Regions from separate parts of the Homo sapiens genome. Here regions 2 and 3 are each linked to region 1. The links come from fine-mapping of genetic effects on gene expression. A gene starts in region 1. Each other region holds a variant in brackets. All regions are shown on one strand. Distances are between the middles of the regions.

Evidence for each region.
Region 2: its variant is fine-mapped to the expression of ABHD5 in whole blood (TOPMed, PIP 0.90).
Region 3: its variant is fine-mapped to the expression of ABHD5 in whole blood (INTERVAL, PIP above 0.99).

The regions. Positions count from the first base shown.
Region 1 is chr3:43,689,329-43,692,089 of GRCh38, reverse strand. It overlaps ABHD5 (abhydrolase domain containing 5, lysophosphatidic acid acyltransferase), which reads right to left and starts at 1,152. Exons shown (of 7, transcript NM_016006.6): 1 at 1,051-1,152. The coding sequence starts at 1,097. It also overlaps a transcript of ANO10 not described here. RefSeq lists a silencer at 501-980.
Region 2 is chr3:43,444,732-43,447,492 of GRCh38, reverse strand. All of the region lies in intron 11 of ANO10 (anoctamin 10), which reads left to right. Among named protein-coding and RNA genes, the nearest start is that of SNRK-AS1, 94 kb to the right of the region's middle. The variant A/G (reference allele first, on the strand shown) is at 1,637.
Region 3 is chr3:43,733,792-43,736,552 of GRCh38, reverse strand. It overlaps a transcript of ABHD5 not described here. Among named protein-coding and RNA genes, the nearest start is that of ABHD5, 44 kb to the right of the region's middle. The variant G/A (reference allele first, on the strand shown) is at 1,271.

The DNA of each region.
Region 1 (2,761 bases):
TTTACTTTCCAATACAAACGACAGGCCTTGAGAAACAAGGCAATAACCTCCATAACAATTTAATTATTCCACTCATTAACTACTATTCTTCTACTAACAAGTGCAAGAAGTCATTTAGGTGTAGAAAAGAATAAACTCACTATACCTGTATATAAAAAAGTTTCACATTAGACATCTGCCCTCCAACTTCCACAGTTTCCTATACATTATGTGTGTTCTTCTAAGGCACATGCAACACACACTTCGCCAGTAAAGCCAGAATAATCCCAGAAGCGCAAACAAATAAGGGACAGTGGAGCTTGCAAGCCAAAGACCTTCATCCGAAAGATGAATTATGACATTTGAACGTGTATCTCTATCTTAAGGGCTAACTTTCTTTCTATGAAGTATCTGAAACTCACAGCCATACACCCACTTCCCTCACTCCTTCTCCCCTCCCTCCTTCCCGGCACCCCCGCCCTCCCGCCGCTTCCCGGGCGAATTCGGGCCTCTAATATCCCCTCCAAGGAAGCGCCGCCCCTTCCTACGGCTACGGGAAGGATCGTCCAGTGGCTGAGGCTGGACAGAGCACAGGTAGTACCTGTAGACGGAAGCCGCGATGGGAGGCTGACAGACCCGGTCATTTCCCGCGCCTCGCAGTCAGGTGCAGGGTCGACCGGGCACCGCCCGCCGGCGGCATTGGGGCAGGCCGGGTCCCTTGGCAGAGCCCGAGCCGGTGCGGCCGCCGCGGCCAGCTCCGTCGCCGGCCCGCGGGGTGGCTTATACAACAACGGGGCGGACCCTCCGCGCGGGGTCAAGGCGGCCTCCCGGCGCGGCCGGAGTCCGGCTCAGACACCTCGGGGCCCCGACGCTGAGGGGAGCCTCTCCCAGGCAGAGCGGCGCCGGGACGCCTCTGGGCGCCGCGCGGACTCATGCCGGGGAGGGTCGAGGAAGCCGCCCGTCGTCGCCAGGCGGGCGGCGACTCCTTGGTGCTGCCCGCTGGGCCCTAACCCGGCCCGCGCGGAGGGTGCGCGCCGGAGACACACGAAGCCCCCTGCCGGCTGCGCTTACCTCTCTCCGGTGTCGGCAGAGTCCACCTCCTCCTCCTCCGCCGCCATAGCCGCCGCCGCGCAAGCGCCGGGACTTATCTCGAAGCCGGCTGACAGGCCGACTGGGCCGCCCCGGGCTGGCGCGGCACTTAAGGCGGCGCAGGCCGCCAGCGCATGCGTCTTCCGCGCACTAGCACGGCCCGGCGGCGCGCCCGCGTTTGCGCGTGCGCGGCCTTGCCTCCGGCTTTGCGTCCGCCATCCCCAGCCAGCATGCACTAGTTCTCCCGCCCGACGCTCCCGGGTGTAAGCGCGGGGCGGGACAGTCAGCCCAGAGGGACTGGCGAGACTCACCCGAATGAGTTAGGTGTTTTAGCTAATTTGAATAATGACTGTATTCATGCATCACCCCGTCGGTGTTGGCTGTCAGGTGGCACCTTGGGGACGGAGGTGCGTCCGGTCCTGGAAGAGCCTAGCTAGTGTCCGATAGATGGTGCAGTGGCAAATGAAATGGCGTAATCGAGGTGCTGTGTGGCGTCCCGCCAGCCTTTCCCCGCGGGTTGGGGGGCCAGGGGGAGAGGGCGACTCACAGGAGCCTTCAGTCAGTTGAGCACTGCTCTAGGTGCTGATGTTACTGTAGTGGCCAGAGCCAGCAATTTCCCTCCCACTCGACTCTCTAGATACCTGGGAGGGTGAAAAGAGTCGGTGTTGGCCGGGCGCGGTGGCTCAGGCCTGTAATCCCAGCACTTTGGGCGGCCAAGGCGGGCGGATTTTCTGAGGTCGGGAGTTGGAGACCAGCCTGAGCTGAAGAAACCCCGTCTCTATTAAAAATACAAAATTAGCCGGGCGCGGTGGCGCATACCTGTAATTCCAGCTACTCGGGAGCCTGAGGTAGGAGAATCGCTTGAACTCGGGAGGCGGAGGTTGCGGTGAGCCGAGATCGCACCATTGCACTCCAGCCTGGGCAACAAGAACGAAACTCCGTCTCAAAAAAAAAAAAAAAAGTCTATGTTTAGGTACTTCGAGTTATTGAGGTGAAATGACTAACCTAAATAGCAGTATTTCTTGACCTGTTTTCAAGCCTTTTAGCAATCAGGTGCAACCTGCTTTTGGAATTCTGCCACCCACTACTACTCATCCATTTATGTTTGGTGTGTGTCTACTATGGGCTCACTTTGTTCTAGGTGCTTGAAAACAATGGGTTGAAATACTGCTCCTGTTTTGATAGATCCTACGCGAATATATTAACCTTTATTTTAGACTCAGTTCATTGTTCTCCTTCCCTGACTCTCCTCCCTCTTTTTCTCTCCTCTGAGCCCCACTGTAAACCTGTCTTTATCACCCATCTAGCTCTCAGGTTCTCAGCCTTGTGTAATTGTTACAGCTTTTAAATAAACATTATCGAATATCTTTCCAACTACACGAGAAAGTCCTCTAGGATAGGAATGGTGTCTTCTGTAATTTAGAGGGGGGAAAGCCACTTATAATCTCTTAGGCATAGTAATAACTAATACATTTTTTATTGTGTTTGATCTAATTCATAAAATATTTTAGGGAAGACCAGAACATATAAAAAACATTTTTACAGGAATTCCTGGTTGTTTCATGAAAGGGCCGTATATTCAAAGTGACCTCCAAATACAGAAGGAGCTGAGAAACTAAAGAATGAAGGAGACAAATCCAGCTTGTCAGCAAAAGGTGATTTATTAGGGAACTTACGGACAGAAGCATGGTCT
Region 2 (2,761 bases), 240 kb after region 1:
GGCGGTTAAGTGTGTGAATAGGTGCTCAACATCATTCAGAGTAAGATAGGCAAGTGGAAACTAAACTGAAACACCTATTGTCACCTTATCAGATTGGCAGAAATCCACCAGAGGGATATCACCTTGGGTCGACAAGGCTGTGGAGGACCAGGGAGTCTCATATTCAGCTGTTGATTGTACATGCGTGCTTAATACCATGTACGGAACAATTTGACAGAATCTACTTATATTACAACTGTGTATATCCTTTGACCGAGCAGTTCTGTCTTTGGGAATGTATTCCACAAATATACTTGCCTGTGCACAAAATGACAAATGTTGGAGGAAATTTATTGCAGCACCCTTACTAATAACAAAAATATTGGAAATAGTGTAAATGTCCATCACTGGTCGATAAAGTATGGGTGCTGTCTAGGTACTAATATGGAAAGATCTCTAATATTAGGAAATACAAAAAAGGAAAATGCTGAACAGTATTTCTGTATGCTCCTTTTATATAAACATGGAGAAAATATTAATATATTCTGATTGTACATGTGGGCAGGAGGCACAGTGGGGCATTGGGAAGATGAGGGCAGGGGTAGGGGTATCACTTTATACCTTTTTTCCTAACCATGTGACTGTATTACCTTCAAACTATAGTTCAAAAAGATATAGGTATATACATTTTTTAATAATAAATTCAGAATAGCTAGGATAAATCGCTTTTGCTGTTGTTAAACCTTAAAAATTATTTTTATCTACCTATGAATATTCATCTTCCCTCGAGTGTTTTCGGTATGGCAAGTTCTGAGTTGTTAAAATTGATTGTTATTGTCACTTTGTAACTGAGAGGGTCTCCCTAGTGAAAACCTGACTTTCTCAAAGAAGTAGTTCAAATTTCTCCTTACTTTTCTGACAGTAGTGTGCCTCAAGCATATCTTAAGAACATAACAAGTAATAAACCATAAACCAGTATTTTCTTCAAGAAAATATATCAGCGGAGAACAGAAAATGTTATCTTTGAAAAAAATATGCAGTTATAAAAAGTTGTAACTCTTTTTTGTTACAAACTCTCTGTTCAATTGTATGAAGTTGCTCTCTCTCAGAGCAAAGACTTGCCAGTTGGCTTTACTTCTTTCATCCCCTTTCTTCTATATCCACTGCCTCTGTACATTTTTCCCACTTCCCTTGCTCTGACAAAGATATCAAAGGTTACATTAAAGCAAAACCTGAGAAGCTTGAGTTATTGCTGATAAGTTCAACAAGGAGTAAATTTAAATGCAATCTGAGAAGTAGAAGATGGGAAGCATTCCTTCCTGAATCCACATGCTCTGTTAGGCCCTAAGGCACAATAAAATGTGGGACATGAACCCTGGGCCCCGAAGCTGATGACAGTGGAGGTCACAAAGTGATCACCCACTCTAAGAATTCTACACACAGTGATATCTATACGTTTCTCTCTCCGCCAGGCTTCTTGTCTTTACTCTCATCAGTGTTTGGACAGCTCCTGACAGAACAAAGGCTGGGTTTGGTGTTCTGTAATCCCAGCTCTTTGGGAGGCTGTGGGAAGATTGCTTGAGCTCAGGAGTTCAAGACCAGCCTGGGCAACATGGCAAAACCCCGTCTCTACAAAAAATACAAATATTAGCTGGGT[A/G]TGGTGGTGCACACCTGTAGTCCCAGCTACTCTGGAGGCTGAGGTGGGAAGATCACTTGAGCTCGGCAAGCAGAGGTTGTAGTGAGCTGAGATAGTGCCACTACACAGCCTGGGTGACAGAGTGAGACCCCGTCTCAAAAACAAAAAATACAAAAAAAAAATGCATTGCCTGTGTTGTAGGCAATGATATTTCTAATGTAAGGAAACATGGTCATAGATTTGGGAGATGTAGGTCATTTTCAGGATATTCACCCTTAACCTGAGAACTGGTTTAGCAGATTTTGCTGAGTTGTTTTTAGATGGTTTGTTTGGAATCCTAGTTTAATTATTCATTGTTTTACCTGTGATTTTGGGATAAATATATATGATAAAGTAAAAGTCTTTTTAAAATAAAGTTTTTAATTTTAAGATAGTTTTAGATTACAGAAAAGTTAACAAGCTAGAACTGATAGTTCCCATATACACCATAGCTAGTTTCCCCTACTTTTAACATCTAACACTGGTATGGTACACTTGTTATAATTAGTGAACAACTATTAATATTATTAACTAAAGTTCATGCTTTATTCAGATTTCCTTAGTTTTTATCTGATAAGACTCATCTTGTATATTTCCTGCTGCGGTCCTAGACTCAGCCATTTTTCCAAGGAGCTCTGGTTCCTTTGTTTTGGACAATGGTATTAGAAACCAAGATCTGTGTGCATCTCTTAACTTTTTTTTTTTTTTTTTTTTTTGAGGCAAAGTCTCACTCTGTAGCCCAGGCTGGAGTGCAGTGGTGCAATCTCAGCTCACTGCAAGCTCCTCCTCCCGGGTTCATGCCATTTTCCTGCCTCAGCCCACGGAGTAGCTGGGACTATAGGCACCTGTCACCAGGCCTGGCTAATTTTTTGTATTTTTAGTAGAGACGGGGTTTCACCGTGTTAGCCAGGATGGTCTCGATCTCCTGACCTAGTGATCCGCCCGCCTTGGCCTCCCAGCATCTCTTAACTTTTAACCTGAATCCCTCTATTTAAGATGGATTTCTTGCAGTTAACATAGTTGAGCCTTGCTTTTTATTCTAACTCTGACATATATTTAGGCCACCTGGAGTGTCCTGCACCCTGCCGTCCTCGCCATGACTGTGTC
Region 3 (2,761 bases), 44 kb before region 1:
ACAGAAAATGTGGGCCAACCCCAGCTCTAAATGGAAGGGATCCAGCATCTTTATTCTTTTATCTGGTTGTCCAAAGCCCCAACCTGTACCATCCCCAAAGCTCCAAAATCGCCAAGGAGGTCAGACATACCTAGATTTGTGGCAGGCTTTCACCTCTTTGCAAATCAACCTTTCCAGGCTCTGTCTCCTCATGGGGATGATAACAGCACGCCTCATGGGGTGTTGCGAACATCAGTGAAATGGCCTATGAGACCCTCAGGTGGTTATTCAGTACATCTTAATGTGTGGAGAAACTGAGGTCTGGGAGGTGATTTCTGACTCCCGGGGTTGTTGAGCAGGTCAGAGGAGAGGGGTCACGAGAATGCAGGTGGCATGCAGCCATCACCCACTCAGTGATTGTCGTCTTCATTTCCTTTATCTTCTTCCTCTCTCCTTTCCCATCTCCCAACTTACCATCAAGCCTCCTCCCCATCCCATTGTGAGGATGAGGCCAGGGATCCCTGATAGGCTTGGGAGGTGGACAGGGTATTTTTGACAGATGTGTGTGGTCATAAGGGCCTCCCCGAGAGCTGAAGGCTAAAGTTAGGAACATCAACTCTCACCCTAGAAAACCCTCACACTTCTGAAGGCGTGACCAGGCCTGGGAGGCCACATTCTCCACTGCAGGCCCTGCCTCCCGCAGCCTGTGTCACCTTTACTCGGGTGATGAGCCTCTCTGCCCATGGGGCCCCTCATGTAAAACTAACAGGAGAGGCCTCCAGCTCAGGGCAGGCCACAGCTGACCTCAAGTCCACAGAGCACCCAGGGCTGGCATAGGGGTGGAGACTTCTGTTCTTTGGCCCAGCATCTCAATTCCTTGCCATGACTCCCATCCCTTGTTCTGAAAAATCCAGAACTAGCCCCTCTGAGCTTTCTCTGGCCACTCATTAGTGAGGGGATAAGGAGACACAAAATAACTACAAGTCCAAAAGTCAGGTGGGAGGAGAACCACTGAGAAGGCTGGGTATGGATGAAGCAGTGTGGGTGAGGGGAATGCAGAGTGTTTCATTTTGAACCATAAATCCCAGCACACCAGGTACCAGGTTAGCGAAGCCCTGGCCTTGTCCCTATGGGACAATGAGAGCACTTGTTCTCATTCCCCAGACACTGAGAAAGGCAGGGAGCTGGACCCAGGAGAGCTGCTGAGAGCAGGGAGCTGCCTCCTCCATCAAGTTTACCAGCATGGTGGGAGGTGGCTGGGAGTAGAGAAGAGGGGTTTCCAAACCTACCA[G/A]AATGCTGGCACCTGCGGTCTAGACATACCTGCTAAGATTGACCTCAGATCATTGCCTACCCCTGGTCCCGATCTCCATCATACTTCCTAGAGGAGTTGGGACAGAGTGAGCCTTCAGCCCAGACTTCTCTTTATAGTATATAAACAATTGTGGTTTTGGCCATTAAAAGTAATGGCCAAAACCGCATTTACTTTTGCACCAACCTAATACTTTCTCTCCTTTGTGCCCCCAAACTCTTCTCTCCTACAATCAAACATCTTCAGGAATTCTAGGCCCCATTTTAGAAATTCAGCATGATTTGGTTCAATAATTATTCAGTGAGTACTCACTCTGGGCCGGACATGAGCAGGTGTTTCTACTTAGAGGTTTCAGCATCACATCAAATGCAAACTAAATTTTCTAGAAACTAAAGACTGCATATTTATTCAAATATATCCAGTGCTTCAGTTTAAGGCAAGCTTCTCCAATCCATGGCTGCAGGCCACATTCAGCCCAGTATGACTTTGAATACAGCCCAAAACAAATTTTTAAGCCTTCTTAAAGCATTATTAGATTTTTTTGCATTTTTCTTTTAGCTCATCAGATATCGTTAGTGTTAAGTGTATTTTATGTGTAGCCCAAGATAATAATGCTTCTTCCAGCGTGACCCAGGGAAGCCAGAAGGTTGGACATCCCTGGTTTAAGGCTTCCTCTCTGTTTTTACACCTCACCATCCCCTATTTTCATGATGACCTTACACCCTCCGGAAAATTCAAGAAATCCCATACCCATAAGCCCTTCCTTTTAAGGTGACTTTCTTGGATCAGGGTCTCTAGTAGCAAAGCCTAAGAAAAGAATTCTTATATATTGGGTTTTGGGGGCTCTCAAGAAACGCGAGGAGAGAGAAATAGGCTGGAGTGAGGGAAAGAGCTAATTAAGGATGTAGTTTAATCTGAAGTTTAACTTCAGCCAGTCCCACAGGTGCCCAGGAACACAAATTGCACCACAGACTGGGTCCCACCTGGAGGCAAGAGGGCAGGCTTTCTGCACCCACGTGTCAGTCAATCATCGGCTGCAGGGGTGTGATCTCCCAGGTGAGGAAGCAGCTGTTTGGCCAAGGGCAATTCTGCAGAGGAGACAGCTATAAGCCACTAGGGGACATCTTCCTGACAGTTGGGGGTAGTTGCACCAGCACCGTAAAGAGCACCAAGGCATCTACTGACAGCATCCATTCATGGTCACCAGAAAGCACACTGCAGAGGGAGAGATCCTTGAATTACTATTCATCCAAGCCCAGCATTCCACAGACAAGAAAACTGGTGCAGACTGGGTGACTTGCCAAGGCCACTCAGCTCATTGGTTGGGGCACTGGGACAAGAATCCAGACTTCCTGGCTCTCAGACATGGTTTTGCGGAATGAGCTCTGAAAAAATAGTAACAGTGTTAATGAATCAATTCTCAATCATGTCATCTTAAAGACATTCTCTGAGCAACCTAACATGATGCAATCA